4 separate regions of the Homo sapiens genome follow, and regions 2, 3 and 4 are each linked to region 1. The links come from fine-mapping of genetic effects on gene expression. A gene starts in region 1. Each other region holds a variant in brackets. All regions are shown on one strand. Distances are between the middles of the regions.

Region 1 (8,410 bases):
TTTATGTTTATATTTATTTACAGTATTTATGTATACTTTTTTCCTGAACCATTTGAATAGGTTGCAGATATGAAGCCTCATCACCTTTAATACTTCAATATGTATTTTCTAAAACCAAAAATATCTATGTCACTATAGTCATCAAAATCAGGAAATTAATATTGTTAAAATACTACCATCTAATCCAGAGACCCCATTCAAATTGTTAGTTGTCCCAATAATATCCTTATAGCAAAAGGATTCAATTCAGAATCATGTATTCCACTTAATTGTCATGTATCTTAATTCTCCTTCAATCTAAAAACGTTCTTTAGTTGTTCCTTTGTCTTTCATGACCTTGATCTTTGAAGAGTACAGGTCTATTATTTTGTAGAATGTCCCTCAATTTGGGACATTTGGGTTGTCTGATTTTTTCCTCACGATTGATTCGGATTACACATTTTTGGCAGGAATGTCACAGAAGTGTATTCTAAGTGCCTCTAACCAGGACATACACGATGCTGATTTGTCTCATGACTGCTGATGGTAACTTCGCTCACCAGTGCCAGATTTCTACACTGTCAAGTTTTCTAATTTTTCTCTGTGTAATTAATAAGTATTTGCTGGAGAGATACTTTGAGACTATATAAATATTATATGTCTCTTAATACTCTCACCCTCTAGTTTTAGCATACACTGATGATTCTAGTCTGAATCAACTGTTACTATCATGACTGCCAAATAATGATGTTTCTACATATAACACTGTCTACATTCATTACATTTAGTTGGCATTTTTATGTAAGGCAGAGCTTTTCTTTATCCTGATTTTTCAAAAAAATCATTTATTCATTTTAGTATGGGCTCAAATATTCCTATTTTATTTAGCGGACTATAATCCATTAACATTATATTGGTGCTCAGATTGACCCAGATGTGGCCAGTGGTGGCTCCTTCAAGCTGGCTTCTGTGACCTTTTGATATGTTTCTTCATTCTGTATTAACTTCCTTAACTTCTGGTGCAACAAGAATTTTCCAGGCTCCTGTTCTAAAATCAACCATTTCTCCAAGGGACCCAGTTACTTTTAGTGAATAATACTGTTCAGAAACCAAGATCTAGGCACATGTGCTCATTGCTTCTAGTATACCATTACTCTGAAACCCTTTCAGCAGATAGAGCTAGGAAGAGCATAATAGATAGATACGCACACACATACAGACATACTTTCCTCTATATTTATTTTTACATATGTTTATGTATATATTGAAAACTATGAGTTGACACTGACATATTCAATTCCAATTCAACATCACCACAAAGGTCACTGTGGAATTCTTCCTCTCTCAATTTGTAACGTCCTTCTCTGTCAGTGAGAAACCTGGCTCCCATTAGACCCAACATATTTATTTCCTCACTCCCCTTTCATGCTTGCCACCTCTTTACTTGCCAAGGGGAAGGCAAAACAGCTGGTCATCGTTTTTTATTATTTCTTATCATTCACTCTTCCATCCAATCAATCACTAAGTCCTGACATTTTTACCTCCTAAAAATTTCTCAAATTGGTCCATTTCTCTCCATTCTGATTTTTCTTAGCCTTGACCATGCCACCTTTGTCTCTTACATGGCTTACAGCAACGGCATCTTAAATGGTATTCCCAGATCTAGATTTGCTTCCTTCCTGTCTGTTCTCCACCCTGCAGCCAGAGTTATCTTTATGATATTAAAATTTGAAAATTTCACTCCATAAAATTCTATAGTGGTATTCCACTGACCAATACTGTCTGGGTCTCTTCATAGCTTGTTTAACTCTCTTGTTTTGTCTCCTCCAAAAGCCCCTAGTCTCATTCTCTACCTTTTAGTTAGCCAACTTGAACTTTTTTTTTTTTTCTTCCAGTTCTTGTATTATACCAAACTTTCTTGTAGTGAACACTATACGCCACCTTCTTCTACCTGGAAACCCTTCCTAACCTGGACAACTCTACACATTATTTTGGTCTTTACTTAAATGTCACTTCTGCTATGAAATATTCCCTGACCTCCCCCACCCCACTGCACCTCTGCATGCTACTGTAAATGGAGAAGCAAGAGATGATAACAGGGTTACACATCCGCTAGTCTGGGGATTGTATTCTGAAACTAACACCCTACTAAGAATGAGCAGTCAGAGTTATAACTTCCCTTTGGAAAAGCAGGTACTTAAATGCAGTTGTGAGGACAGATGAAAAGTACATAAAACACCTACAATGCATACCTCCTAGAAGGAGCTCAATATATGTTATCCATTATTCATTCAACAAATGTTCATGAAATGCCAACTATTTCATAGACACTGTGGTAGATGCTGGGGATAGAGAAAATACAAAGTAAACTATGAAACTATAGAATGAGCATCCAAAGTCTAATATATAGAATGAGTATCCGAAGTCTAATAGGGAGTAGGAGTGTTTGAAGGAGTCAGTCAACCTGCTTAAGATTCAAAGGATGGACAACATTTGGCTGTGATGCAGGAGTGTAAAAGGAGGAATTTTCAGGAAGAGAGGACAATATGAGTAAGGACGGGGCGTGAAAGGCTATGGATTGTTTTTCATGGTACACATAATTCAATGTTGCATAAAACTGCATGGTACACATGATTCAATATTGCATAAAATTGGAACAAGAAGCTAACGAGAGATGAAACTAGTCAGGGAGATGGAGAATCTTGTATCCTAGGCAAAGTAATCATTTTCTCTTACAGATTGCCTTTCAAAAATTTTCAGCAGGAGAGTGCCATTATCCGATTTACATTTTTAGTCAGGTCATTCTGATAGCAGTGTGGAGAATTTAAGAGTCAAACTGGAGTCAGAGAACTGGTAAAGGGCCCATCTGAGGAAGTTAAAAAGAGAGAATGGATATGCTTTGGCATAAGATGCATTTAGGATACTCTACTGTTCTTACTAAAACACTGGGAGGATTGTGGTGGCTTACAGCAAGATAGAAATCTAGGAGAGTATGTTTAGAACGGAAAGTTGAACAGCTCAGTTCGGTACGCATTGGATTAGTAATCTTTCTCGTTGCTTCCTCACAGGATTTAGGGAAGCACAAGACATATAGTTTGTAAGGTGTGGCAATGTCAGTAAGAATGGAAAAGCTGGCCTCCATAAACTCTTACTGTACAAATGAAGCAACAGCTTACAGCGGGTGGCTGTAGGTACAGGAAATGGCCTGTATTCACGAGTGTATTCACGAGTCCACGAGTAGCGCATCTAGTATTTTTCCAGCCCTGGTGACTCAGAGCTGAAGATGGCGCCTGTGGCAGAAATCAGAAAAGTGGGAGGGAGCATTAGGTGTAGAAAAGGATGGCGTTTTAACTTTTGTTTTGTTTTTCACACACAGGGAGATAGCTCTAAAGGAACAGTGGATAATTTTTTCTTAAAATTTTGTCTGTAGTACAACTTCATTTTCCACGCCTTAAAACCATGTTTTCTTTTGTGGGCGCGATCGCGTGGGGAGTGACAAATCTGTTTCTTTGCCTCATTCATTCATTTTCTTATTCTGGGCGGCTTCCATGACAGCCTCCCCAGTTTTCCTTTGCCCAGTCAGTTTTTCCCTGCGCTAGCTACAATTCTAAGGCGAAAAGAGCATTTTCGGAGGTGAGGGCGGGGAAAACTCAAGACTCTGTAGGGGCACCCGCGCATTTCCGGGTCCCTTACCGCTCCGAGTGGAGGAGACTGTTCCCGCTCGCGTGGCCGGGGAGGCGGGAGCCCCCTAAGTTCCCTGAAGCTCGCGCCCGCCTGCGGCCTGAGGGCCCCCGGGCAGGCGCCGCACGGCCCCTCCTCCTGGAAGAAGGCGGTGGAGGCGCGGGGACGGGGCCGCGGTCTTCGCCTAGAGCGCGGGACGCATCGGTCGCCATGGGAACGGCGGCGTAGGCAGGCGCTGACGTCAGCAGGCGGCGCGCTGTCCGCACTGCGGCACAGAGCCGCGGCTTGCTTTCAGGACACGGGTCGCTGGCGGGTTAGGTGGCTGCGTGGCCGCCTCACTTCGCGCACGCGCCGCTAGGCTGGGGGAGTTGATTTGCACTGCTCCGGGTGTCGGCTCCGGCGGGACGGGCGGTTCTGCGTACCCCTCTCCGTGAGTACATCATGGGTGCGCTGGTGGCGGGAGCGCGGGCCGGGGTGCTCGGCCTGCCCGGCCCTCTCCTGGGCGGCGTGTCGGGGCTGCTGGAGTCCGAGAGCGCGGAGGCTGATAGCGTAGTGACCGACGAGCGTGGGCCGGGTGTCCCGGGGGAATGCGATTTCTGAGAGTCCTCACCGTACTTTTGCGCTTCTTTCACTGGTCTCCGTGTCCCCGGAGAGTTGAGCATGGTGCTCTGATAGAGAATTCAATCTTTGCCTTTCCTACTCCCGATTCTTATTTAAATGCTTTTAAATCAGATGTGTACTGAGTGTGTTTATTTCCTTTTAGAGTGTCAACCTGGGGCTGAATCTTCAACCTGTCAAAGCCTTCTTAATTATGTCTGAGAAAAGGTGATCAATTTGTTATATTTATAAGAGCCAAATTATATTAATAGGGTTGTTTCGAGATGCATAAAAATAGAACAAAAATGTAGACCATTTAAGAATCCTTATCAAAGGTTGTGCTGCGTTTAGCATTCCTGTAAAAACATCTATTGTGAAAATAAAGCTTTCCCCTTTCTTTTGAGAAAGAGATGCCAACGATTTTTTCACCTGTTGCATTAACAGTTGCTGTTACTGCTTGGGCGTTAGGAGGAAGATTGCTTCTTATGAGTACTCTGGGAAATTTTTTAAAGAATGCTTGAAAGAAATTCAAATACCAAAAGTGTTTTTAAACCATACCTAGAATCTTGTTTATGAGGAATAATATTTATGAAGTTAGAATCTTGTTTACTTATGAAGAATCTTGTTGATTTATTCATTGAATTTTGTATACAGGATTTTTGTTTGTCTTTTTTTCCCTTGCGATAACATTTGGTTAAGGAGCGAATTATCAAGCCTCTCAGTTTTTTCTCCCAATGATATTGAGCCACATATTGGCTGATAATCAGGTTGTCTGTAAAATAAAATGAGATGAAATGTAATCCATTTAATTTTCCTGTGTAATATCTCTTAGACGCTCCTGTGAAAGGGTTTGTGAGGGAGAAGTTGTAAAATAATGGAATATATAAGAATCAGAGGTGTCTTTTAAAGTCCTATCTGATTTTTTGCAGAGGTTACTAATCAAATATTAGCCGTTAATTCTATCATGTTTGCTGTAGTACATATTAAGATTTAGAGATGGCTGAGCGCAGTGGGTCACGCCTGTAATCCTAGCACTTTGGGAGGCTAAAGTGGGTGGATCACTTGAGGTCAGGAGTTCAGTATCAGCCTGGCCAATGTTGGTGAAACCCCATCTCTACTAAAAATACAAAAATTAGCTGGGTGTGATGGCCCACACCTGTAGTCCCAGCTACCAGGGAGGCTGAGGCAGGTGAATTGCTTGAACCCAGGAGGCGGAGGCAGCAGTGAGCTGAGATTGTGCCACTGCACTCCAACCTGGGCAACAGAGCGAGACTCTGTCTCCAAAAAAAAAAAATTAGAGATGATTTCTGTACTGTATTTGCTGTGTTATCATTACATAATATTAGTATTTATTAGTTTAGTTGTGTATTAAGCTGTTAATAGTAAATAAGTATATGATTTATATATTTTATTTGTAATTATTTACTTATTTTTAATACAATAATAATGGACATAAAGTAATTTTATTGCAATGTACTGATTACTTTGCTTTTTGGTATTTTCTCTTCTCCTTACAGTACTAAAATAGGTGCCATTTTAAATTCCCAGACAAGGAAAAACCAAGGATTAGAAATTAAGTAGCTTGCCCAAGGCCACACATCAGTAAGTGGTGACACTAGAGCTCAAGCCTGAGTCTTTTTTACTCGCTTTGCTTTTGCTTCTCTTCACTTCGCTTCTCTCTTCTTCTCCTCTCTTTTCTTTCATAGTGGCAGATACATAACTATAAGAGAGCATTGGCTTGGTCCTCCAAAGCTAGCAGTTTGGTGGGAGTTACAGAACATTTTACCAGGGTGAAAATTCAAGGTTGAGGTAGAGGGAGCTACAAAGATTAAGGCACCCTGGAAGCACAGAAGAGAAGTTCTTAAATGCCCTTCAAGGTGAGAATGCTCTCTAGAGAAGATATCATTTGCCTTTAAAGGATAGTGAGGAGTTTGTTAGAGAGACAAAGGAGGAAGCACATTTTTCAGGGGAGGGGATATGTGTGTAATGATACAAAAGCAAGAGAGAACTTGGCACACGTGAAGGCCTGCAGGTAGTTTCACATGTCTGGAACACAGTGGATGTGTGAAGGGGACATTTCATAAATGGCCTTGGACCTCACTGGTAAGGACTTGATATTTTTTTCAATGTGCGATTGGGAGCTAGTGAAGAATTTTAAGCGAAGAAACGACACCATCACATTTGAATTTTAGAAAATTACACTAGTTGCTGTGTAGATGATGATTTTTTTTTTAAGGGAAAGGTGATAGCGGCGTGGAAACAATCTTAAAACAAAAAGCATAATCCTTCCACAGTGTTTTTGTCCCTCAGAGTTACTGTCTCATGTCACTGCCTTTGGGGGTGATGGGAAGACAGTTGGAAGAATTCTGTAAAGAATTGTCTACATGTCCCTTCTACAGGTGTCACCTTCCATTCATTCCTTAGCCCCAGCCTGCTAAGTTTCTGCCCCTCTATAAACAGCTTTGACACACGTGACTTCCTACTTGCAGATTCAGTGGACTTTCTTCAAAACCTCCAGCCCCTTTTGATGCCACACAGTATATAGGCAACATCTCCTTTAAAACTTGGGTTTGCTTCTGTAATGCTTCTATCTCCCAGTTTTTCACCTATCTCCCTGATTTTACTTTATATTGTAGGCTCACAGGATTCTCATTGGCTTTTTATTTTCTTGGAACTATCATATTTATAAATAACTCCCAAATCTTCAGCCTATTGTCTCCCTGCTGGATTAGTAGATTGCCTAACAAACATAATATGATTATATACGTAAACACACACACACGTGACAGTAATAACAGTTGTTGTTTTTGAAGGGCTTGCCATGTGCTAGGCATTGTGCCTAGTATTTTATTTGCATATTCTCATTTAATCTTTATAAAAACACTGTGAGTGATTTACTCTTATTATTGTGAAAGATTAGGAAGTTGATATCCATAGAGGTGAATCTGCTGGCAGATAGAACTGGTATTTGGATCCAAGGATCTGAAAATGGAGCTGATGCTTGTAGCTGCTCAGTGCCCTTCAGATACCCAACTCAACATGACCCATACTAAGCTCAGTGACTGCACCCTAACAACCTGTTACAGTTATAGCTAACATTTATTGTTGCTTCTTCTGTCTACGGTACTGTTCTAAATCATTTAACCCTTACAACAACCCTTTGAGTCGGCACTGGTAGGGTGTTTTTATAGATGAGGAAACAAAAGTCACGCAAGTGACTATGGAAACTAATTCTAGGACATGGATTTTAAACTACTGCCCTGTACTGCATTATATTACAGTGTAATGATACTACTAATCTACTTATTCTAGTTCTAGAAACATGGGAATTATCTCCGATTCTTTCTCCTGCCTCTTCATTAGTTATTTAATCTTTCTAAAATATTACCTCACTCCATCACCTGGAGCGCACTGGTGCAGTCTTGGCTCCCTGCAACCTCCACATTTCAGGTTCAAGCGATTTTCCTGCCTCAGCCTCCCCAGTAGCTGGGATTACAGGCACCCACCACCACGCCTGACTAAGTTTTGTATTTTTGGTAGAGATGGGGTTTTACCATGTTGGCCAGACAGGACACAAACTCCTGACCTCAAGTGATCCACCCGCCTTATCCTTCCCAAGTATTGGGATTACAGACATGAGCCACGGCGCCCAGCAGGCTTTTTTTTGATGAATCATAGTCATAATATAGGTCAGCTTTTTCCTGGCCTATTAGATGACCATCGAGTAGTATAAATATTAAATTTTTATTTGTTTTATGATTTTTCTACTTCCGTGCTCTCAGGTTTCAATTACTCATGCTGTCATTGCACTTGCCTTTGCAGCTTCTCTTTTCTAATTTAATATAGACTAGAAAGTAGAAGACTAGATTTATTAAATTTATAACTGCTAGAAGGAGTAAATACAGGCTCCTATCACTAAAGTATAGGAATTTTTACTCCATGGATTTAGTGATGTCTGTTTTGACTGGGTGCCACGTAGTTGTTGCCTAAGTTAACTGACATAGTTAGGTATGTTTACATAATCATTCCTTTCTTTTTAGAATTTCTTAGACATTTCTGCAAGAGGAACATGAATGTGGATGTCCAGGGAATTGGAGCATTAACCAATAATGCCTTGGGCCCAGTGTGGTGGCTCACGCCTGTAATCCCAACA
Region 2 (8,410 bases), 30 kb before region 1:
ACCACATCCTGTCTGCCCCTATCTGAAGAAGCATATGCAGAGTAATAAGAGCAATGGGCTGAAAAAAGACCTCCAAGAGTACCAGCATTTTGAATTATGCAAAGAAAAAAGATAGAAAAAGGGGACAAGGAAGCAATAGGCAGAGAGTTTCGATGACAGAAGAGGGCATTAATGAAATAAAGAGGTGGTTTCAAGAAATGGGTTAGTATGCTAAATAAAATAAATGGATTTAAAAATAGTAAGATCAATTATGGTTAGCCAGATATTGTCAGCGCAGAGGATAGAGGAGGAAGCCCGATTTTAATAGGTGAATGAATGGGGAATTCAAGAAGTGGTGGTGGTCAAGTGCAGACTATTCTTTCTGAAAACAGCTGATAAAGGTTAGCTGATACAGACATGGCTAACATTAAAGGGGCACACAAATTCAAAGATTTTTTAAATGGGAGTTCCATAAGCCTTAAGAAAAGACAGATGAAGAGAAGCAGAAAAGTTGAAGGCATATAAGAAAATTGGAGAACAGACAGAATAGTATCCTAATCAAGATCCTAACTGGAAGGCCTGGCCTTGGGAAGAAGGCAAGAGAGCTTCCACTGAGATTGGTGGGAGAGAGTCAAGGATGATTCTGGTTCAAAATTTGAGGGAAGGTATGGGTGTTTGAAAGTTTTCATTCTTCAACATCTCAATATTGTCAGTAGAATAAAAGGCCAAGGCACCAAGAAAAAGTTAAAAAGGATCTTAAGGGGGAATGGCAGGAATCTAAAGAAGTTCTTGGGAAGGGTGGCAAGAATTACTAACCAAGAACAAAGCATAGGACAGTCAAGCATTGATTAGACTCCAGCTAAGTTAAATATTATATTGGCCCCTAGCAAATACCAAGTGACCTTTTTCTGAGACTGTTCAACAGCCAAGGTATATGCATAGGAAAGTCCAAGGTTTCAGAGATTTGGGGATGTTGGTACAAAAAAGTGGTTCCATCAATAAGTTATAGGGTTCAAGCTGGGGAGGGATATAAACAAGAACAATGTGGTAGATAAACTGGGGTAACAGAGCCATGAGATAAGAGATGTCTGTGGTGTCAGAGAGACATCTATGGAGAGTAAGGTCTGAGGAGAGAGCTGGAAGTAAGAGGGCAGGACAATTGTAGGGAATAACAAAGTTCAGAGTATATCCACAGTTGCCAGTATTTTGTGGGGTGACAAAGGTATGTGAAAATCACTGGAGTTGGAGAGGTGGAAGAACCTTTGAAGTCAGGGAAGATAATAACAGGATTTAGCAGAGGATGAAATTGTGACCCAGGTGTCAGAGTCTTGAATGGAGAAAGTGAGTGACCTAGAAGAATTGTTTTCCAAGGAGAACCAAGCATCTGTCATTACCAGGTAGTCAATGGAGCCCTCTTTTAATACACACAGGATGTGCCATGGGCTTCCAAGTTGCGGCTAAAATATTTGGGGCAGTGGAGGGAGTACCATTCGTGTTGATCCAGAGAAGACAGAAAACCATAAGAGTAAGAGAGAATAATGTTTCAGAGGGATTTCTATTTTAGCCCATTATCCTAAGTGACCAGAATGGAAGGTCATTGAAATTAGTCTAAAAATTTTTTAAGGGATCTTTAGTATTAGATTTCAACACATGAACATTTGACTTGGAATGATCTAATTCATATCCACCAGGGAAGTCTGGAATGGCTCAGGCAAAGCTTGCCTTGGATTTTAGATTGGTAGAAATTACAATTTCACTATACTCCAGCCACATCATCCATCTTTACCTTCAAACTGGCCAAGTTCATGTCCTCCTCACCCGTCTAGTCTCAGCTGAAGTTTAACTTTGTGGTAGGGCTTTTTTCAACTACCTACACTAAAGTGGAAGCCACTGCTGTCATTCTGAATCTCACTACTGTTTTCTATTTTCTCAATCACCTCTGTTACTTCTTTGCTGTTTTCTTGCACTTGGATTTCACTTCATTCTACTCAATAAATATTTATTGAATGAATGTTTGTACTCTTTGGCAGCAAAAATATACCAAGGGATTTACAGACCATTTTGTTTATTTCAGAATAGCCGTTGACTTTACGTGGCCAAATCATTAATAATAGAGTTAATCTAACATATTAGACGTTTAAGTACAATAAGCAAAAACAAGTGAGTCAATCACGTTGACCCTATTTAACCCTTAAAAAGTAAAAAAAAAAAAATTATTGCTATATATCATAGTGCTATTATTACTACATTTTTATTAAATGTGAGCACCAAACATTTATAGGTCTCTACTGTGCCCAAGGCAAGTAATGGAACATAAAGATTAAAAAAAGATGGTCTTTCCTATCAATGAAGAGTTAACAGGGAAGATGAGACATACTTGTACAAGAAAGATATAACTAAAATGATACTGAAGCAGAAGTTAAGTTAGATTACCCAGTTCAGGTCCCCGGTTCCCCACCTGGTAGCTGTTCGTCCTTAAGCATGATACTTTTCCTTGAAGCATCAGCTTCAGCAACATTTAAATAAGACTAATAATGATACATATTTCATAGGGTTCATGTGAAAATTAAATGACACTTAAAAAAAATGAAGTGCTTAGCAAAATACCAAACATATAACAAATATTCACGGAATGCCGACTGTTAGTGCTTATGGTCCAACTAAAGGATTCTTTGATTTAATTAACTGTTATGAAGGTCTCTTTATAACTTGTAAAGTTATAAAGTTATAAGTTTGTAAACTTGAAAAAATATTTTCTGGGATTACCTCTGATCATTACAACTCATTCCTATTTAACTAATTAGTTGCATTGGACAAATAGTAATGTACATCTAAACATCATGATATACGCCTCAACAAATAAGAAAATTATTATTCATAAAATAACATTACTGAATAAAAAGTGATGAATATGGGAATGAGCAGCCCTCTGAACTAACTTCTCATCAGCCTAACTATCAGGAAAGTAGGGCTTTTAATGAAAATGGAGAATTGTTAATAAAACTGAGAACTTTTACTAATCTGTGGAAATTTAACCATAAGTTTTAACCACGAGAGTTAAGCTCACTTATCTGCAGAAATATCTATCGTGTAATATTAGTTACACTTACTTGCTCCTGGCACTATTCAAAAACAAATGCTTTCCTCTACAAGGTAATTATCATTTGATCTATAAAATATGGACTTTAGCCATAAATATCTGGGTCAGAAAGTCTTCTAAAGCAAAATACTGTAGGAAATATGTTGGAATTATGTCAGAATTATCTAAAACTTGGATCATTTATTAGTTACTTGAGCAAGATTTCTTCCTGGAAAGTTATAGCCATATAGATTTTTATGTTCACAGATGTAACATTTGAAGTGTAAGATCAAAAGATTGGTATTTCTAAGTCAAACATGATCATACAGATATGTAAAATCACCAAAGAGATTTATCTGGTACATTCCACATTTCAGTCTGTTTTCTTACTAACACATATTTGAAAAATAAAACCCAAAAAGTCCTAGTTGTTCAAGCATGTGATTAAAATTCAACATTAAACACTTTCTGAAAGAAATCTGATAGTGACACTGTTGGCCTGGTAATCTTATCCTATATACACATGACATGAGAAAAATTACCC[CTG/G]TGTTTATCTTCATTATAGTGAGGACATTAGAAAATGTAAATGTATGTTGTAACTACTAAAACTCTGGAACAACACATGTAATCTGAAAAGTCAAAGCTGATTTATTCCAGGCACCATTTAACAGAAATGACACATCAAAAAGTAATACAATATTATGAGATTTTTATTGCAAATAAGGTTCAAATATATTTTCAAAGGGAAGAGTTAGAAAAGTGAACATCTTTAAATGTCTTCAAGATTAATGGTAAGACATTCTGAATTGGCCATGTTACAGAATAGTGGAGGAATTATATAACTTACTTACAGTCTGCACATACAGATGCTATGGGTTTTAGAGACAGTTTTCATGTTGGCTATTTATTTAGACAGTGTTATATTCCCACAATAATAATGTTTTATTTCATCATCCTGTTTGAACCAGGTTTAAGCATGCAGCTGCAGCATGTTGAATTTTTAAGAAGCAAAGTCAGTCCAGTTTCATGAGTTTGGGCTTTTTATTCCATATTTGAATTTATTTTTCCTGGAAAGGAAAAATAGTTATAGCAGCACCTGGTATAGTTCCATGAACATAGTGGAGGCTTAATAAATATTTATCACTGTTGAAGTTAGAAGAAACACTGATTTGCACGCTGCATGATGTTGAATTAGGACCATATTGCTGCAAAAAGCATAAACATTGGGTGCGGCATCTGAATCTTAGACAATTTTTGAAAATGACTATTTTGCAGGAGGCCTAATCTGCCACAGAAAAAAATAAAATGTTACTTATAACTATTATTGAGATGCATTAAAATCTAAAGAACTGTTTAGAAAATCAGACTCTACAGAATGCTGGAAAGTGTTACTTTTTTGTATTGCGATCTGATTGGCCTTGGCAGGAGAGCCAGAAGAGAACCCCAGCTGTAGATCTGTAGGAGAGAGAGAAGTAAGCCAAGACTGGTGGGGATAGGGGAGGTCTGAGGTATATGACTATAAGCTCCCCCAAGTCTCAGCATCTAACAGGACATACCAAACCTGAATCCAAACCAGATTAATGGTGACAGTCACCATCTCAAGCCAGGTGGGAGCATGGCACCAGGAACTGGTTATGTGGGAAATGTTATTATCCAACAGATGACAGTTTTATGTTCGGAATGGGAGAGGTTGTCTGGGTTGTAATAGGGCCTTAGCCAGTGGGCTGCAGAGGGGAGAAAATTGGGATAGGATCCAGATCCCCCAGAGAGAAGAGGTTGGCAAGACTAGTCAATTCGTAGGCCCAGACAATTTGGCTGGAGTTCAGGGCTAGAATCCGTTACCAGCAAAGAATAAAGTGCAAACAAAGAACAGAGGCAAGAATCTAGAAACACAGTGAGGTTAGGGTTGGGATTGAGGGGCTTACTATTTATTGGTGGCCACATAAATGTTTACATAGGGCTCCCTCAATAGCAGGCTTAGGGCGATGGATGAACTCCAGACTCTGATTGATAGAAATGGACCTCCTAACATCCCGTCAAGCCTAGGTCTCATTTGAGTAACAACTTGATGGTGCTGTGTTGTAGGTTGACATTATGTAGTATTGGCTGCTGGGCATGGCTATGCAAGAGTGGTCAGTTTGGGGCACTATTTTTTTATTCTGTAATAAGCTTAAATAAACCCAAAACTATATTAAAATTGACCATTTGTTTATATGCTAGATGTCAGCCCCACAAGGGGAATTTTTTCTTTTTTTTTTCATTGACATATAACATGTACCTAGCTGACATATAGTTAGTATTTAACAGGTGTTTGTTGAATTGAAAATGAATTAATCAAATATATTCTAAACATTACCAAAGGGTTTGCAAAATTTGGATGTGATCCCCTAATTACACTGTATTTTAGTTTCTTTAATCACAATGATACTGCAATTCCAGATCAACAAAAGACAGAAACTGATCAAAGCGTTTTCCATACCTTTATTCCACTAAAACAGAAGATAAATATTATTTTATTTATCAAGAAACCAAAAGTAGGGGGTTTTGACGATTGGTTAACTTTATGTGTCAAGTTGACTGAACCATGGCATACCCAGATAGTTGATCAAACATTATACTGGATGAGTTTAACGTTGAAATTGATAGACTGAGCAAAGCACACTGCCCTTTCTAATGTTGTGGGCCTCATCAAAACAATTGATAGCCTAAATAGAACAAAAAGGCTGACAGTCTCATAAATAAGAGGGAATTCCTCCTGCCTAAATGCCTTCAAGTTGGGACATTGGGTTTTTTTTTCCCGCCTTTGAACTTTAATCAGCTTTTCCTGGTTCTTGGGCCTGCTAGCCGTTAGACTACACCGTCAGTTCTCCTGAGTCTCCAGCTTGCCAACTGCAGATATTGGAATTTGTCAGCCTCTGTAACTGCATGAGCTAATTCCTTATTATATACTTATATATACATTCTATTGGTTCTGTTCCTCTGGAGAATCCTTACTAATACAGGGAGTTGCAGCCCTGGTTAATTCAGTAGCTCAACAGCATCAAGGACAAGATTCTTGCCATTTTCTTATTCTGCTGTCTTTAGCATCTTGGCTTGCTGACTTACACTGGTTCTCCTCATGGCCTAAGTGCCTGTAGTAGCTCTAGGCATCACTTCCTCCGCCACACACATAAAGAGTCAGAATAAAGTTACTGTTTCTTCAAATATGTTTCTGTTTAAGAGCAGCCTTTCTGAAGCAACTCCAGGCTGGCTTCCCCTTATCTTTCATTGACCAGAAAGATCACATGACTCTTGTTAAACCAGTCTCTGAAAAGCAGAATAGAATCACCATGATTGGCTAAGAGTAACTAAATTTATCCCCTTGAACAAGGGATCTGATTCACTTTCCCTGAGCCAATGGCCACTAGCAGGTGAACAAGTGAACATGTTTTAACAGCCTGAAAGAAGAGGGAAATGGGCTTGAAAGAAAATACCTTCTTGCTATTCCTACCCTGCATTTAGCCCTCCATTTGAATGAGGCAGGAATCTTGAATTTTCCTAATGGTCCTGAGCCCCAAAACTGACTTTCCCAATAAGTGATGAGGAGGTTTAGGAACTTAGAGTCCACAACCAGGATCTCTACTTGCAGTTTCAGAACTGAAACACTCACTACATGTCTTAGGCCATTCCTGCTACTGCAACAAAATACTTTACACTGGGTAATTTATAAATAACAGAAAATTATTGCTTACAGTTTTAGAGGCTGGAAGGTCCAAGATCAAGGTCCCAGGAGACTGTGTCTGGTGAGGGTCTGTCTCTGCTTCCAAGATTATACCTGGTTGCTGCATCCTAACATGGAGGACTGGATGAACTCTGTTTCCCCATATGGTGGAAGGGATGAAGGAGATGAAAGGGGAAGCAGATCTCTGAAGTCTCTTGTGTAAGGGCATTAATTCCATTCACAAACCTGGAGCCCCCATGACCTAATCACCTCCCAGAGTCCCCACCTCCTAATACCATCACCTTGGTGATTAGGTTTCAACATATGAATTTTGGAGGGACACGTACACTCAAACTATAGCACTCCCCCAGTACTCATCTGATTCCCTTCTTGGGAATTGACCACAGTTGAAGAAAGGGCCCTCATTCATCAAGTTGCAGTTGGGTAGGGTTGGGAGACTGGTCTGTGCAGGAGCATAAAGGCACAGCCCCCTTTGCCTCTCAAAGCTGGGGTCATCCCAGCCCCAGTCTTCCCCATAGGATTAGTTGAGGTGTTTATTATGGCAGCGTTGTTATTCATTCTCTCCCTCCACCCAATTCTGTATTTTTTTACTCCGCTCTATCCCCATCTGTTCACTCCCACCCCAAGGATGGATCCCAAGAGCCTTCCTAAATAAATCTCCATATTCAAACCTTCTCCTTAGAGCCTGTTTTCTTGGAAATCCAACCTGAACAGGGGCAGACCACAGAGGGGCCTGACCTGCAGTTTATGTGACTATCAGGTAACTGCTCCCCTAGATGGAGACCACGATCTGACCCCTTCTCCAGGGCAGAAATTGTGGCCTGTGGTGAAATATATTACAAATTCTACTTGCTTTAATTGGTGTATAAAAGTTCAAATTTAGGCCCAAATTTCTCCCTAATCTAGCTACAGATCTATAGAGATATATATATATATATATATATATATATATATATATATATCAAAAAAGGACATGTAACAGATTTCTAAATAAAAGCTTCAAGCAAATAATTTGCAAATGTTATTATTCTCCCTTTGTGCTAATCTTTTATAAAAAGGCATAGCCACCTTTGCATAAGTCACTTTAAAAACAATAAAAAAATACCGGGCGCGGTGGCTCACGCTTGTAATCCCAGCACTTTGGGAGTCCAAGGCGGGCGGATCATGAGGTCAGGAGATCGAGACCATCCTGGCTAACATGGTGAAACCCCATCTTTACTAAAAATACAAAAAATTAGCCGGGTGTGGTAGCAGGCGCCTGTAGTCCCAACTACTTGGGAGGCTGAGGCAGGAGAATGGCGTGAACCCGGGAGGCGGAGCTTGCAGTGAGCGGAGATCGTGCCACTGCACTCCAGCCTGGGCAACAGAGCGAGACTCTGTCTCAAAATAATAATAATAATAATAATAAAATAAAAAATAGATTAGATCCATCTGCTACCTCATGAAGGAAAAATTATTACTAGGCAATGTCTAGGATCTTAGGACTCACTTGGAGATTTTTCAGAGGATATCCCATAAATAACATCTATAATATGCAAGGCACAGTCTTGGAAATACAAAAATGAAAAAGGCATATTGCCTTAAGAAGTTTATACTCTAGTGGAGCAGACAGAGAAGTGAAAGGTGTAGCA
Region 3 (8,410 bases), 200 kb after region 1:
AACGTGATTATCTCTAAAAAAAATTGCAATTCGTTTTATAGCAACATTAGGTTGATTTATAGATTATATATCATATCAAACTCAATTTCCCACAGTATACTTTAATATGAAGTTAATGTTTCAGATTCTAAAGGAAGTATCCGATGCTCAGGGTAAAATTTGGTACCCTTGAAAGTGCTTATTGTTTTTCTCACGAAGGTGCCATTAATAAAACAAGATATACTGAACACATTTTGTAGATTTAAAGAGCTTTCAAATTCAAACTCTTGCATACAGATCAATGTGTATTACTATGAAAATATAGAGTATACTATAAAGAATATGAAGGAAAGATGCAGGCTAAAAGATATATTTAGAGCTTAAGTAATATACCACATTGTATTGGGAGATTAATTTAAACTGATTCACAACTGATTTTTTTTTTTTTTTTTTGGTCACATACCTGAAAGCTGACTTTACTTATAAATGAGTGTTTGAACTCTCTGGAGAACTACTTCCTTGGTTTTTCATGGGAGCAAATATATTGTCCTGATAGACAATATATGTTCAGGACAGGCATAGATATTCCTGTTCAGAACAGGCATATTCTCTCCCCATTCAGGAAGTTGGTGGGTTTTCAGCATGTGAATATTGACTGTGTTGTCTTTTCTCATTTTTTACTTACTACTTGTTTTTCCTCTTCTTCCACAGCAATCAATCAATAAGAACAAGTCCCAGGACTTCAGACTAGGCTCAGAATCTATGACACAGTAAGCAACTTCTTCAAAATAATTTGCAGTGATAAATGGTTGGGGTTTTCTTTTAAGGATAATTTCTCCATTTCTTATTTTTATAACATTATCAAACTATAAGTTAAATTTCAGATAGTTGATTTTAAAGGAGTTTAGCTTGTTTACGATTTTTTTTTCTTTTTTTTTTTTTTTGGAGACAGAGTCTTGCTGTGTCACCCAGGCTGGAGTGCCGTGGCACAATCTCAGCTCACTGCAACCTCCACCTCCTGGGCTCAAGCAGTTCTCCTGCCTCAGCCTCCCAAGTAGCTGGGATTACAGGCACGCACCTCCGCACCCAGCTAATTTTTGTATTTTTAGTAGAGACAGGGTTTCACCATGTTGGCCAGGCTGGTCTTGAACTCCTGACCTCAGGTGATCCACCTGCCTCGGCCTCCCAAAGTACTGGAATTACAGGCATGAGCCACCATGCCTGGCTGTTTAAACAATGAATATTTTAATAGTTGGACTCTGAGAATGTGTATTATTACAAAGTTATAAGAAATCCTATTAAACTAGTATCACACAAAACTTTAGAGGACCTATTTTGTCATTTATTTTTATTTGAGTACTATTTTGAAATAACATTAACTGAAAACAAGTGAACGTGTATTAAAAGTAAAATTATGAATGCCTTTTTTGAAGCATTAAGAAAAAAGCTAATAAGCAGAACATTGTCATTATATATTTTCTATAAATGCTTAATGTATTTGGGTAATTTATTTTGAAGTATTTATTTTAAAAGAACTCTGGAAAGTTTTTATATTTTTAATTAGTACTTGCTGTGTCACTTAATGTACCCATCAAAAGTCACTCTTTTGCCTCAAAAAAAAATTTTACATCAAAACATTCCCAACATATTTCTCAATTTTTATCATTTTCAGTTATCTTTTGGACCTAACATTATGTCCAAACTTTATATTCAAATTACATTACTAACAAAATATAACGGAAGTGTGACAGCATTGAACAGCTTAGCTATCATACCCTCCCATCCCATCACCACCACCCCCACGTACATTGCTGGGTGCTTGCTTACTCACACATGCACACAGACAATCCCTGCTGAGCTTCCTTGGGGAAAATATTTGTTCAAGTTAACCCTGCTATATGCTTTGGCAATTTGAAGAATAATATGTCTCTTCCAGTACAAAAATTCTGATTCAGATGACAGTTATTTACAGGAATTGTCTAATAAAATCATGCAGCATTTAACAAGACAGTATTTCATTGTACAGATGAAAGACAAATGTAATTTTTAAGAGTCACAGAATCATGATCTAGAAGATACCTTAGAAATTCTTTCTATAATCTCTCCAGGTTTTATAGTTTCTTGTTTTACTGTTATCAGTCAGATATGTTTTTAGTTCCAGTCTCTGGACATTTAAAATTTTACATAATAGTAGATAAACAGTCACTGACCCTAAGGAGCGTATACTCAACAACAAAATACACTAGAAACAATAAGCACAGACTGTTTCAACAACCAAAAAAAAATGACCATGTTTAACACATCATGGGAACAGTGCTCTTGGTGTCTTTGAACATATTTCATAAAAATTTTTAGAACTTTTTACTTAATATTACGCAAATGAAAAAATGTCTCCTACATACTCCTCACTCGGTCTACATTTCATACCAGTTTTCACGAGATACAGAGATCCATGTCATGCCCTCCAGATTAAAGTTCAATAAAACCTCACAAACATCTCAGCTTCTAAAGGATGTCAGTATAGCTCAGCTTCTCTTTTTGAAGATGCTTCTGAAAATAAAAATTTTCATGAGAAGTTCAGATATGTCTAAATGCCCAAGTTCATCTAAAGCTTTTGGACTTTCCCTACTTACAATTTCTTAGAAGTAAGGATGAATTAAGATAGATTTCTCATGACTTGAAAACTGTAGGCGAGTTGATGGTGGAAACACTAGAGCCCAGCATGTACAAAGAAGTCATTTCTTTGATTTACCTAAATGAGTTTCTTGTACCCAAGTAAATGGACAGAGGCTAATTTTTTGTTTCTTTGCAGCCCTGCCTTTGAGTTTGTAACTTTTGCTTATTAGTTGGTTGACCAATATATGTAAATGAGCCACATAGACAGCCTCTTACTACTTTCCACTTGAATTTCTTGTCTTGTTTTTTTGTTTTTTTTTTTTTTTGAGAAATGTCAGTCACTTCTATGCAAGCAATTTATACACATTTTAGTAAAGTTACATTCTCTTTTTTAAGGTATCTAGAAGAAACTTCTATTGGTTAATTTAACAAAAGTATTTTCCTGAAAATCTTAAACTTCTACATTTTGTACCGCATGCCCTGTGATGTTCTTCATATATTATCTGCTGCCTAAGTCAGAGTTGGTAATGAGGCTGCTATAAATATGCTGTCATCCTTAACAAGTAGTATTAATGTTCCATAGTTAACTAATATAGCCTGTATTGAATTTTGTTGGGTTTTTTTTAACATAGCAACCTTTATTTCATTAACAGCTTTGTTCAGAGAGAGGTTAATTCATATAGTTAATCATATTAAAGTCTTATTAACCCTGAAATCTGAACTAAATGAATGAAATCTCTTCTTAATATGGTGCGGCTATAAATGTCAATTCCAAGCATCCTGTCACTCCACTGTATATTTTTTTCCATCTTTATAATAACCATTCCAGGCTCTTTCATTTCTCTTTATGAGGAGGTAGTTTATAGTCCACATTTTTTTTTCTAAAATAATCCTGCTACTTGCCACTTTTCTTCTAAATTTTTACTTTTATTATCCGTTTTCTGCCTTTTTTTAATCCTCATCCTACCCCCAATTTCTAAAATTAAAGGCATTTATTGTCATGTGTGTGACCTCACAGTGTGCCCAGCAGTGAGCTAGATGCATTGAGAGATATTAAAGAAGCATTACAGGTCAGATGAGGAAATAGAAATAAGAAGCATTTAGAAGGCAACCAATTATATAATTAGGTGCAAAATGATGTGATGCAAATTGTAATTACAGAAGAGAGCTGAATGAGAAGGCAGGAGGAATATGCATAGCTAGAGAAGGCCTCTAGATAAAGGTAAGGCTTGAGTTTTTGTCTGCCTCATGGGAGGGCATTTGGATGTGATGTGGGAAAGAACTAGTTTAAAGGAGCATACGGCTATGAAGAGAGGGGAGAGAGTGGGAGGAGACTGACTGA[T/C]TAGTGTCTTGGAGTTGGGGAATTGCAGTGGGAGAAAAAAACAGGATAGAGATTGTGGCTCTAGAAGAATGCAATGTGAGTGTCTTGAGGGCATCTGATGATTGGAAGGTGGGGCCAGGAGACATGTCTTGCTGTATTTGCCCAGCATTTTACATGAGCCTGAGCAAACATTATTTGTCTGTATCAAGAATTTGGTCTTGTCCTAGACCTCGATGCTACTGCCATAAAGAGGAAGGGTCAGGATTAGCCTTTGAAGGTGTCAGTAGTTCATTTGTGAGCATCAGTCCAATTGGGAAAATGTGATCATCTGCTCTCTGTTCTAGGTGCTATACTAGGTACTGAAATGCAGTGATGAATGATATGATACACAACTTGTACATTGTGGAAGTGCCCAGTGTGGCAAGGAAGACAGACACGTAATAGTCATTTGCTAAATATAGATTTGCTGAGCACCTACAGTGTCACACACAGTGTTCTAGGCACTGAGGGTACAGCAGTAAACAGATAAAAAATCCCTGCTATAAGGAGCTAACATTTTATTTACCTATATGCAAAATAAGTAAAATGTCTAATTATACCAGATGTGTGCTACAGTATGGAGAAAAATAAAGCATGGGTAGGGGAAAGGAAAGGAGACATGAAGGTTGCAGTTGTAAATCGGAGCATGAGAGAAGGCCTGAGAAAAGTGGAAGGAGGCAGGGAATTGAGTAATGTGAGTATGTAGAACACAAGTGCAGCGGGCCCTGAAGCAGAAGCATACCTGTTACCCTCAAAGAAAAGTAAGGAAATTAGGCTTTTTAGAGTAGAGTAAGAAACTGGGAGAGATTGGATAAAATCAGAGACAGTAATAAGACCTTATATACTATTATAAGACTTCTGGCTTTTACACCAAGTGAAGTAGGAAGCCATTAAACACAGGAAGTGACCTAACAATTTAACAGAATCCCTCTGACATTTAAGATAAGAATAGACATTAATGGACAAGGGTTGAATCAGAGAGACCAGTTAAAATAATATTGAAATTATCCAGGTGAGACTTGGTGGTGGTGCCTCGGAAAAAAGTGGGAGCCATGAAGTTAGTGAAAAGAGGTCAGATTTTATGTATGCATATATATTTCTAACTTATAAAGAGATACACTTGATATAAAATAAATTGCGGCCAGGCGCGGTGGCTCACGCCTGTAATCCTAGCACTTTGGGAGGCCGAGGCAAACGGATCATCTGAGGTCAGGAGTTCGAGACCAGCCTGGCCAACATGGTGAAACTTTGTCTCTACTAAAAATACAAAAAAATTAGCCGGACATGGTGGCAGGCGCCTGGAATCCCAGCTCCTCAGGAGGCTGAGGCAGGAGAATCGCTTGAACCCGGGAGGTGGAGATTGCAGTGAGCCGAGATCGTGCCACTGCACTCCAGCCCGGGAGACAGAGTGAGACTCCATCTCAAAAAAATAAAATGAAATTAAATAAAATAAACGGTTTAAGTTTCGACATGGGTAAATACCCATGAACCATCACCACAATTAAGGTAATGAGCATACCCATCTCTCCAAGACTTCTGATGCTCTTTTGTAATTTTGCCCTCCTACATCTTTCTTCCCTTCCCTGAGCCACATCCCCTGATAATCACTGATCTACTTTCTCTCACTGTCTAGAGTTTTAAATACCACAGTTTGTTTATTCATGTACCTTTGTGGATGGACCTTTGAATCATTTCCACTTTGCGGCTACTACAAATAAAGTTAATGTCAACATTTATGTACAAGTTTTTGTGGCTACTACAAATGAAGCTAATATCAACATTTATATACAAGTCTTTGTGTGAACATAGGGGTTTTTTTTGTTTGTTTAACATCATATCACTGAAAGAGGCATTGAAGAAGGTTATGCTTTCATTTTTCTTGGGTGACATCTTGAAGTAGAATGGCTGGACTATATAGTTGGTTTATGCTTAACTTTTTAAGAAACTGCCAAATTGTTTTCCATACGGTTTTACCTTTTTACAGTCCTACCAACATGTATGAGTTCTGCTTCCTCACCAATACTTGATATGGTCAGTCCTTCTAATTTAGCCATTCCAATACATGTAGAGATATATCATTGTTGTTTGATTTTGCATATCCCCAACAACTAATGATGTTAAGCATCCTTTGATGTGCTTACCTTCTATGCATACATCTTCTTTGGTGAAATTTCTGTTCAAATCTTTTGCTCATTTGTAATAGGTTATTTGTTTTATTAAATTTTAAGAGTCATTTATATATTCTAAATATGTTCTTTATCAACTATGTGATTTTCAAATATTTTTCCTGATCTGTGTTTTGCCTTTTTATTCTTTTAGCAGTGACTTTTGAAGAGCAAACTGTTTTTTACTTTGTTGAAGTTCCGTTTACCAAAATTTTTCTTTTACAAATCATGCTTTAGTATAATATCTAAGAAACCTCTGCCAACCCAAAGCCACTAAAGTTTTCTCTTATATTTTCTTGTAGAAGTTTTATAATTTTTTATTTAAGACTATGAATTGTTTTCAGTTAGTTTGTATGTGTGATATGTGATGTGAGTTTTGGATCAGAGTTTATTTTCTTTTTTTTCTTTTTCTTTTTTTTTTTTTTTTTTTGCATTTGGAGATCCTGTTGTTCTAGCATCATTTGTTGAAAAACAACTCTGTCTCAACTGAATGGCCTTTGCACCTTTGCTGAAATCAGCTCTTAATATATATGTGGGTCTGTTTATGGTCTATCTATTATTTTTCTATTTCTCTTTTGGTTTTTTTTGGGGGGAGGGTTGTTTGTTTGTTTGTTTGTTTTGAGGCAGAATCTCCCTTTGTCATCCAGGCTGGAGTGCAATGGCGTGATCTTGGCTCACTGCAACCTCTGCCTCCAGGGTTCAAGCAGTTCTCCTGCCTCAGCCACCCAAGTAGCGTACACCACTACACAAGCTAATGTTGGGTGTTTTGTTTTGTTTTGTTTTGTTTTGTTTTGTTTTGTTTTGAGATGGAGTCTTGCACTGTCACCCGGGCTGGAGTGCAATGGCATGATCTCGGCTCACTACAACCTCCGCCTCCCGGGTTCAGGTGATTCTCCTGCCTCAGCCTCCTGAGTAGCTGGGATTACAGGTGCACACCACCACACCCAGCTAATTTATTGTATTTTTAGTAGAGATGGGGTTTCACTATGTTGGCCAGGCTGTTCTCAAACTCCTGGCCTCAAGTGATCCACCCGCCTCAGCCTCCCCAAGTGCTGGGATTACAGGTGTGAGCCAAGGCACCCAGCCCATTATTTTTCTATTCCTCTGTCTTTATGCTACTACCACATTATTTTAATTACTGAGTAGTTTTGTAGTATGTCTTGAAATCAGGTAATATTAGTCCTCCAACTTTGTCCTTTTCAAATTTGGTTTGGCTATTTAATATTTAGGGTTCTTTCCATTTCCACGTGAATTTTAGAATTAGCTTATCAATTTCTATAGCATATTCCAATTGATATTGCATTTAATCCAGATACTAATTTGGAGAGAATTGACATTTTAACAATATTCAATCATCTGAGTCATTAACATGATATATCTTTGCATTTATTTACAACTTCTTTAATTTCTCTTGGTAACATTTTTTAGTTTTCAATGTATAGGTCTTGGACATACAGTGTATAGGTCTTTGGTTGATTTATTCCTACATGTTTCATATGTAAATGGTATTGTCGCTAGTTTATAGAAATACTACTGATTATTGTATGTTGATCTTGTTTTATGCGAACCTACTAAACTCACTTGTTAGTTGTAATAGCTTTTAGTGGATTCCACGAGATATTCTGTGTAGACAGACAATCGTGCAAATAAAAGACAGTTTTCTTTCTTCACAATCTGGGCGCCTTTTCTTTCTTTCTTTTTTTCTTTTTTTTTTTTTTTTTTCTTTTTTTTTTTTTGCCCTGTTAACACTGGGTAGAACCTCTAATACAATGTTGAATAAAACTAGTCAGAATAGACATTCTTGTCTTGTTCCTGATCATGTGGGAAATGAATAGGAGCATTTGATCTTTTACCATGAAGTATGATGTTATTCTAGGTTTTTTATAAATGCCCTTTATTAGGTAGTTTCCCTTTCCTAAGAGTTTTTGTCAGGAATAGATGTTTGATTTCTCAAACATGTTTTTGCATTAGTTAAGTAATCTATGGTTTTTGTTTTTAAATTTCTTAATATGGTGAGTTACACTGATATTCAAATGTTAAACCAACTTCGCGTTCCTCGGATAAAACCTACTTAGTGGTGTGTTATCCTTTTTATAAAGGATAGTGCTTGTTGAATTTGATGTGCTAAAATTTCCTTTAGAACTTCTTGCATTTTGTTCATGAGAAATATGGGTCTGTAATTTTTTTGTAACATCTTAAGCTGATTTTGATGAGGAGATAATGCTGGCTTCATGGAACAAGTTGGGAAGTATTCCCACCTCTTCAATTTTCTAGAATAGTTTGTGTAGAT
Region 4 (8,410 bases), 210 kb after region 1:
ACCTTCAGGAAAGATCTATTGGATTGAATGTCTTGTGGGGTAAGGTCCAGGTTTTTTTGTTGTGTTTTGTTTTTGTTTTTTTGAGAGGGAGTCTTGCTGTGTTGCCCAGGCTGGACTGCAATGGTGCGATCTTGGCTCACTGTAACCTCCACCTCCTGGATTCAAGTGATTCTCCTGCCTCAGCCTCCCGAGTAGCTGGGATTACAGGCACCCACCACCACACCTGGCTAATTTTTGTATTTTAGTAGAGATGGGGTTTCACCATGTTGGCCAGGCTGGTCTCAAACCCCTGACCTCAAGTGATCACCCGCCTCAGCCTCCCAAAATGCTGGGATGACAGGCATGAGCCACCATGCCCGGCCACGGCCCGGTATTTTTATGAATCTTATTCCCCAGACATAACATACACACAAACACTAACCTAGTTTCATACTTGTTTTCATAAGCTTGCTAAGAAGAATGTTTCTTTCTCTTTTCATCACAAGAGCCTTTAAAAAGGGCTTTGCTTCGTTACTTTCTTCCTCTGTTAGATTACAGAGATACTTTATGAGAAGATAGAGAAGGAATGGCTTTGCATTTATCCTTGTCTTTTGGTTAGATGTCTTCTCCTCCCTCTTTCAGCACATCCCTGCTGTCTCCTAGCTTTCAGGTCCTTTTGCTGTTAGCGTTCATCAAGCCAGTGTGCCACTCTTGATTTTCCTCCCATCGTCAGGAGGAGCCGCCAGTGTCCGAAGGGTGCACATGACCATCTTTATTCTGTCTCTTTTCTCCCTTTTATGCGCCATCTTTGTCATTCTCTATCCAGTGTGTTTCTTCCTCTTCTGAGTCTGAATCATTTCCCTCAAAGATGTTATCTTTGCTGCCTACTTTAGATTTTTCGAGTTGAATTTCTCTTTGGGTTCTTCTCCTGAAGGTCCGTCTGGCTTCTCTGTTTACTTCTCACAGTGCAGTCACCACCTGATTGATTTCACTTGTCCTACATCTTCTGCACGTGCAGGATCCATCTCACTAATTTCCAGCTGTTCTTCTCCCCTTCTCCCCCTTCCCTTTTCTGTTTTTCTTCTTCTTTTTTGTCCTCCCACTAACATGAACTCTTCCTCTCACTTTGTTTTGCCTTATTCTTCCTGTAAGATCCTTTACCCTCCTCACTGCCTTTTGCAGAAGTTTATATGTCTCTCTGTGACTTTAGCCCAGCCTTCATTGAAACTACTTTCTTTTCCATTTTTATCAGATCCTAATTTGGTGAAAGTTTTACGTACTTTTTCTGTATATGTACAGGGAGACTTTTTTTGCCCCTAGTGGTATTATACCTTGGCATGCCGTATTCTGTACCATTTTTATACTCAACTTCATGTGCATTCATGAGCTTCACTAGAACGTATTTTTGGGCTTCTATATATGATACAAGCTTACCTGGAGTAGCTCTGTTTAACAAATTTAAAATCAAGAAACATCAAGTGATAAAGAATTTTTGCCCCTCATGTGTAAATGTGTTTTATATGAAAAGATAGTGCGACCATTGATTTAAGATTGGGCCTGTTCCTTAAAGCACAGGTGTCCCCTACACCTCCTGTGCCCCCAGGGAAAGCCCTTCAGGAATGGTTAGCCATTGCCCTTTCTTGCCACAGTGTGCCAGCTGTCACTTTTCTCAGGAGTGGTCGATGGAGTTGACTGCTACCTTAACCAGATTTGCCATCGTTCTGAAACTGCCGTGTGTTTTCTAAGGACAACCAGGTGTTAAGCCTTTCTCTTTAGAAGAAGGACAGTAACCTTTCTGTGTAAGTCCAGAACTTATCAATGCTGTATGAATGATTGCATTAAAAAATGTTAGGTTTAGCCCCACTAATTTATCTCACACTAGTTGTAGTGCAAATACTACATGCTGTCTAAGGAAGCAACTTCTTGTTTCATCTGCATATTGGTTCTTGATTTTTATGAATTGTATAATTTGTTTTACATCAAAGCCACATCTGGATGCTTGATTGTTACTATCTTGGTCAAAAATGAGACAGCCCATTTTTTAATTGATTTGAAAAATGTAATAACCTAATTATATAAAAGTAGGCATAGCCATAGACTAAATGAAAGAATGCTATTTAATAAAATTATCTGTATCCTTCCGAATCACTAACCCTGAATATCATCCATGAGGACTTTTTTTCCCATTCAATGAAGAATTTCATATACTCTGATTGCCTGCTCTTCATTTCTGGAAGTTACTTATGGTTTGGAGTTTTTAGTGTCTATATTTGGGGATTTTATTTCTTTCTTGCTTACATTAACCTGTCAATGCAGGAGCAGGCCTTAAACAATTGCTAATGATACAAAAAGATGCTAACAATGTTTGAGAGGCAAACTAGAAGATAGGAAATTAGTATTTTGGTCTTTTTTAGTTGTGTTTGTATGTGTTTGTGTTTTACACAATGTCCTTTATTACCTGTGCTGTTGCCTGAGCACACTAAGATTTGGTTGTAGTCAGAAGACATTATTCAAGTTTATTTAGTACATTTTGTGTATTTTTCTTTCCAGTAAAGAATTGAAGAAAAGTTAAGAGCTGCCGAAATGCACAGAGGTGAAAATGACAAACCAAATGGAATTTCTCTTCAGAGTTCAGAATTTTCAGATACTAAGGAGGAAGAAAGGATCCACTACTTCTTGTTCTTATGAATGACTCTAGAAAAATCAGAATCAAGTTGTGGGTGGAAAAATCAACGTGGCCTTTGAGTTCAGTTGTTATAAACCATTGTGACTATTGTTGGTCAAAGTATTGGTACTTATATTGTTAGTAATTGCATCATAATTACATTACCAGTGTTGGAAAACTAATGAAGAAAACACTGTAATTGCTACTCAGCAAATGTGAATAAAAGGTGTTTGCGTTATTAGGATGTCTGTTAAGTAATCATTTAATATTATTATATTGGTAATGGTTGTATGTGTGATGCTATGCCCAGAATATGAAGTATCTGTTTTTGAAATTCACTTTATTTAAAAGATAAGCAGCTGACTGGGCACGGTGCCTCATGCCTGTAATCCTAGCACCTTGGGAGGCTGAGGCAGGTGGATCACCTAAGGTCAGGAGTTCAACAACACCAGCCTGACCAACATGGTGAAACCCCATCTCTACTAAAAATACAAAAATCAGCCGGGTCTCATGGCAGGCACCTGTAATCCCATCTACTGAGGCAGGAGAATTGCTTGACCCAGGAGGCAGAGGTTGCAGTGAGCCAAGATCACGCCATTGCACTCCAGCCTGGGGGACAGAGCAAGACTCTATCTCCAAAAAACAAAAAAGATAAGCAGCTTTAGAATATGGCGCATTCAAAACAGTCTCAGTAACAAAGACATTAAAAGAAAACAATTTACTTTCTAATTAAAATTTTGTGTTTCTTAAGATCAAATCATATAGGTAACTTCATAGACCTAAATTAAAAGTGATTTTTGGCTGGACTGGCAACAATGTTCCCAATGTCTTTACTTTTTAAAAAAGGCTTTTCATATTTAAGCACATACCTATTTTGTAGACTTACATTGTTTAATATTTATTTTAATCTTAATATTTTTACATTATTATATTGCATTATTT[ATTTT/T]TTCTAAGTTCCAGAATAATAGTGTCATTATTATAGACTATATGTTTTGAAGTTTGATATTATAATGGGATATTCATTTTTTGTTCTTTTCTTGACTCCTTTCTCAAGTGTGTGATAAGGTCTGCTGATAAAATATTTAACCCCAAGAAAGTGAAAACTAATATAAAATTAGAAAGACCTATCCAAATTAGACAGTCAATTCCATTAAAATAAGAAGTGAGAAAAACAATGTTGGGCATTGAGGTGTAAATTTTGCCCAGATGTATACCCAGTGTGAAATATCTTCTAATAAAAATATATTTGGCTCTTATCCCTGCACATGTAGAGGCATAAAAATTGGTAAACATGTCCCGCTGTGTAGAACTTTAAAAAAAAGGCATTTTTGAAAGTGTTGAGTGGCACTGATAACTGGTGAAGCCTACAGCCATCCGCCCAAAAGTCTGTTCTGATGGCACTGAGTTTTCATTGTTCTGGATGTATAAGTCTGTGTGTCAGGTACAGCTGGGCCCAGCCAGCTTGAGTCACTCTTGTACAAGCTTGTTTTTTTCTGTCTTGTGAATGCACTTGATAATTTAAAAATAAAAATATCTGTTTCTCTGCAGTTTCAGCTAATAATTTTGAGATATGTGTTGATTTTCTGATTGAATCACCAAGAATTTCAACAAGTTTAGAAATAATTTAAGATGAATGAAAAATATGTCAGGGGGAGCTAAGCATTTGCTAAGCTCTTGATGTTTATATGAAAAATAAAGGGTTGTTTTTATATTGCAACTACTAAAGAGAAAAATAGCAGTTGAAGCAAACACCAGGAAAATTTGGCTCTACTGAAAGCCCAGTCCTTTTCCCCTTTGTCTCGCTGACAAAGTAAGACTAGGGTTATGTTCATGAATAGATTAATAAAAGATGTTTCTTTACCACACAATCTGAGATGAGATGGGGTGGGGGAGATCATGACAGTGCCCTCCAAGCAATAGATCCAGCTGATAATCAAGCAGAAAATCAGACACCAGAATCCATTTGATGATGTACGGCATTAAACATTTCCTTATAACAAATTGGGTTTGTTTTATCTTTATTCTGAAAGTACTGAATTTTATCCCATGTCATCTCTTTTCTCCAAACAAGTAACAATTTGACACTGTCTTCTTCTATATCTAAATAATATTTTTAAACCATTGTTGGAAATGCACTGCCCAGTTATTCATCCAACTCTGTCTTGAAGATTAATGTTTCTTCAGTATTGAAATGATACTATGTATAGGACTTGGAAAGCTAGAATAAAAATCAAGTTTTTAAAAGATTTAAAACATGAAATATTTTACACAGTGAATGCAAATTTATGTTTAAAATGCATATTTTAAATGAAATCAGTGCTTTTAAATGGCTAACGCTTGGTACTTCTGAAATCTTGTGCAGGGTTTCTATCACATACAAATGAATACTTGACCTTAATATTATCTTTAAATTATAGAAGAATTTAATTAAAGAAAGATGTCTTTAGGAAGCTCAGCAAGACTATATTTGAGAAATAACTTACCATTTTATAGCTTCATGTGACATGTTGTCACTTTAGTCATATATTTAGCCACAAATATTTTTAAGAGTTAGGAAGTTCTAGAAACTATAACAAAAGTTTGTGACCTTACACTTCTATGTGTATTCAAATGATTTCCATCTGATGGCCATATCTGTTTAGTGAATTATGGAAACACTTTTAAGCAATCCAAATGTTTTAAGCTATATATTTGTTCGTTTCTATTTAATTGAACTGTACCGAAAATAGTCCCCAAATCCTCACTTTATTATGTACATGACTTCATTTACTCTTCACATCAAATCTATGAGATAGATAAAATCTTCCCTGCTCTAGAACTAAGGAAACCAAGTTCTGAAGGTTAAGTAACTTCTCCAACTGCACAACTCCAGCCACTGCTAGTTGCAAATGGAGATATCAGACTCCACTGGGTGATCTGTAAAGTACTGGATCTCAGTTGCTGTGGAGAGGAAAATGCTGATATTTGGACATGACAACACACACAAGAGTAAGGAAGCAGTTGGCATGTGCCTATGACCACACTCAGGGACTAGAAACATCTCAAATGTTTGTCATTCAACAGTGACCTAAATAAAATAAAATATATCTGAGTGAACTTTTTTTAAAAAAAACTGATCATTTGTTTATCATAATTATTTTAGTAAATCTTTACTCCATACTATAATTATGTTTCCTTAAGAAACAGATTCTGTAGAATCAAACTAATTACATGTACAGTAACATTTTATTCAAGAAACCGAAAAGGCGCCATTCCAGTCATATATGAGAGAATAAAAACATCAAGAAGCATGTCAATCAAAAGGCTGTGTTGACTGGAGAACTCATTCTATGGATGGACACAATTATATGCAGGAGAATTGAATGTCAGCATCATTTAGGGTTAACAATGGACTAACTAGGCAAAAGCAGACAGCTACTCTCTGCCGAGGCCCAGGAAGCAAACTTGGTAATGAGGCACTTCATTCTTCATATCCTTCTGCTCTAATTATTGTGAATAGGAAATACTTTAAGCTAAGGCGGGAACTGGATAACAAAAACATTTGTTTTGTAAACACAAAGAATGCTATTTTTCTAATGATCCCCTTCAAATCTACATCAAGCATATGTTGTGAGCAGTGGGTTTTCTAAAGTTGCTCTTCTAACACCTCAAATTCATACTGATTATAGATGGGTTATTTTCGTCTCGAAAAGCTAGGGAGGCTAATGCTGCTAAGAATCAATTTTAGTTTCTCGTCAATCTAAAAAAGGGATATGTACACCACACATAATTCATGTTCTACCTCTTATCACTTAGGTCAAAATGCTCCAATACATACTTCAGTGTTATTTCTAAAAGTACTAAGCAATATGATTTTTACTCACTGTAGTTCATTTCTTCATAAAAATGATTTGAGCCCAATGAAAGAATAGAAGAAAATTTAAGAATGGTTTCCTTATAAAACATTTATGTAAGTAAACTCAAATATTGCCAATCAAAGGATGATTTCTTAACATTGCTTGGAGTGGAGATGTTAGTGAAGATAAGAAAAAAATAGTCTGAAAGGAGGAAAAAGCAAGAAGTTGAGGAACATAACTTGCTGCCAGGGCAAAAATAAGCAACTGAAGCTTGCGCAAAGCGGTCACAAGACTAAAGGAAGAAGGTTCCCTAGAGAAAAGTTTGGTAGCTTCAGTTTGGTTTTTTGATGTTTTCAGCTGAGAATCAGTAGTTAAGGTGTTTTTTTGGTCTTAAATTTGTTCACAGGGCCATTCTGTATAAATGCTCCACATAACTTTTCCTGAACTATGATTCTTTAATAAAAGTTAAGCACAGTAATGTGTTTAACCATCCCTGCCTATTATACAAAAGTTAATGTTCAGACGTGTCTACTGAAGCTACTTTTAGCAACTAAATATTTCCATGGTGGTAAAGAAATATCAGTAAAATCTATGCACTTTAAGCACATCGAATTCTTATACTTATCATGTGTGCAGGCAGAGTACATAATAAACTAGTCTATAGCAGCTGTAAATTTCTGAGGATTTATCTAACCACAAATACATTGAAATGGGGAAATGGGTCTATATTAAACTATGCAAGATGCTGCTGGAGCGTTGCCATTTCTGCAACATCCTGTAATTAATTTATCATGACAGGTCTGGCAAACTGAAACATCCAATACACTTGCGACAGACTGTTATACTATAGTTGTTAGAGATCCTGTAGTCACATTAAGTGAAGGTAGATTTTTTTTTTGCCTTCATACATGAATATAGGGCTGTTAATATTTAGAGTACCCTGTAGCCAAGGACAGATTGTAATTTTTGAATTTCAAAATAACAATATATAGAATATGGAAAATATCCCAGACTGAAATCATGAGTTCAGTCTTTTCTCTGCCATGTGTGGTCTTTTCCTGAAGAGGGACAGTCCTGGGAAGGGGAACGATACAGTTTGGTCAGCGCTTCCCATGCATGTGTCCCTCGGGCTAGATAGGATGGATTCTCTCCTGGAAGATTTGAAGATCAGTTCTCTCTTGGTTGTCTCTCAAACACATTCTTTTCCTGTAAGCCAAGCTCACAAGACCAGCTTCTGTGTGCCAGCCTCTTCTGGAAGCTGCAGTCCTGCCATTTGCAAACTTAAAGTACAAATGATACAGAAATTATTCCTGCTCCAACCCCATCCAATCCAGAGAAAGAAGAAAATGTAAAGCTTGTGGGGTTTTTGGCCAAAATAGATCCTATCTAACAATATGTTATTTGTTGGTTCATATCAGTGTGAAAGACAGAGCCGCTCTTGACTTGATGTGTGTAATTTGATGCAGGTGAAATAGTGACTGACGCTAAGGATGGAGCTATGTAGTAAACGAGGCTTCTTGCTCCAGGAGTGAAGTGAAGTTACTTCCCATGAAAAGTGAGATCTATATTGTATGACGGTCCACAGCCTTGCCCATTTCCTAGAGAAGATCAGTTTCTCAGTCTACAAACAAGTGGAGTCAAGGGGGTCTGAGAACCTTAAATCTGGACATTTCAGTGAGAAGGAAAAGATGTTGGGGAAAGGTCCCAGGGATGGAGAATGAGTCCTGCTCAGTGGGAAAGAGGTGAGAAGCTGGGCAAGGGGCCTCAAGTGGTCCCAGCCTGCTTACTACAGGTTAACTGTAAACACTTGACTAGTTGTGTGTTCTTTGTATTTTCTTTCTTTATCCTTACTATTGGAAACGGATCCTGTCTCGGAAGACCTAAGAGGTTTGTTGCTTGGGATTAAGTTTTAAAAGAAAAGCATCCAGCA

What was found.
Region 2: its variant is fine-mapped to the expression of AHI1 in skeletal muscle (GTEx, PIP above 0.99).
Region 3: its variant is fine-mapped to the expression of AHI1 in fibroblasts (GTEx, PIP above 0.99).
Region 4: its variant is fine-mapped to the expression of AHI1 in lung (TOPMed, PIP above 0.99). The same link has a PIP of 0.9 or more in whole blood.

Annotation. Positions count from the first base shown.
Region 1 is chr6:135,493,263-135,501,672 of GRCh38, reverse strand. AHI1 (Abelson helper integration site 1) reads left to right here and starts at 3,933. Exons shown (of 29, transcript NM_001134831.2): 1 at 3,933-4,090; 2 at 4,424-4,485; 3 at 5,775-5,859. It overlaps AHI1-DT (AHI1 divergent transcript), which reads right to left and starts at 3,872. Exons shown (of 6, transcript NR_152842.1): 1 at 3,673-3,872; 2 at 3,156-3,269. RefSeq lists silencers at 3,593-3,812, 4,163-4,222.
Region 2 is chr6:135,523,692-135,532,101 of GRCh38, reverse strand. The region is part of intron 2 of AHI1-DT (AHI1 divergent transcript); the gene reads right to left. Among named protein-coding and RNA genes, the nearest start is that of AHI1-DT, 30 kb to the right of the region's middle. The variant CTG/G (reference allele first, on the strand shown) is at 3,603.
Region 3 is chr6:135,292,839-135,301,248 of GRCh38, reverse strand. It overlaps AHI1 (Abelson helper integration site 1), which reads left to right. Exons shown (of 29, transcript NM_001134831.2): 27 at 691-749. Among named protein-coding and RNA genes, the nearest start is that of MIR548A2, 58 kb to the right of the region's middle. The variant T/C (reference allele first, on the strand shown) is at 3,938.
Region 4 is chr6:135,279,767-135,288,176 of GRCh38, reverse strand. It overlaps AHI1 (Abelson helper integration site 1), which reads left to right. Exons shown (of 29, transcript NM_001134831.2): 29 at 2,530-4,645. The coding sequence ends at 2,532. Among named protein-coding and RNA genes, the nearest start is that of MIR548A2, 45 kb to the right of the region's middle. RefSeq lists an enhancer at 5,263-7,617. The variant ATTTT/T (reference allele first, on the strand shown) is at 3,587.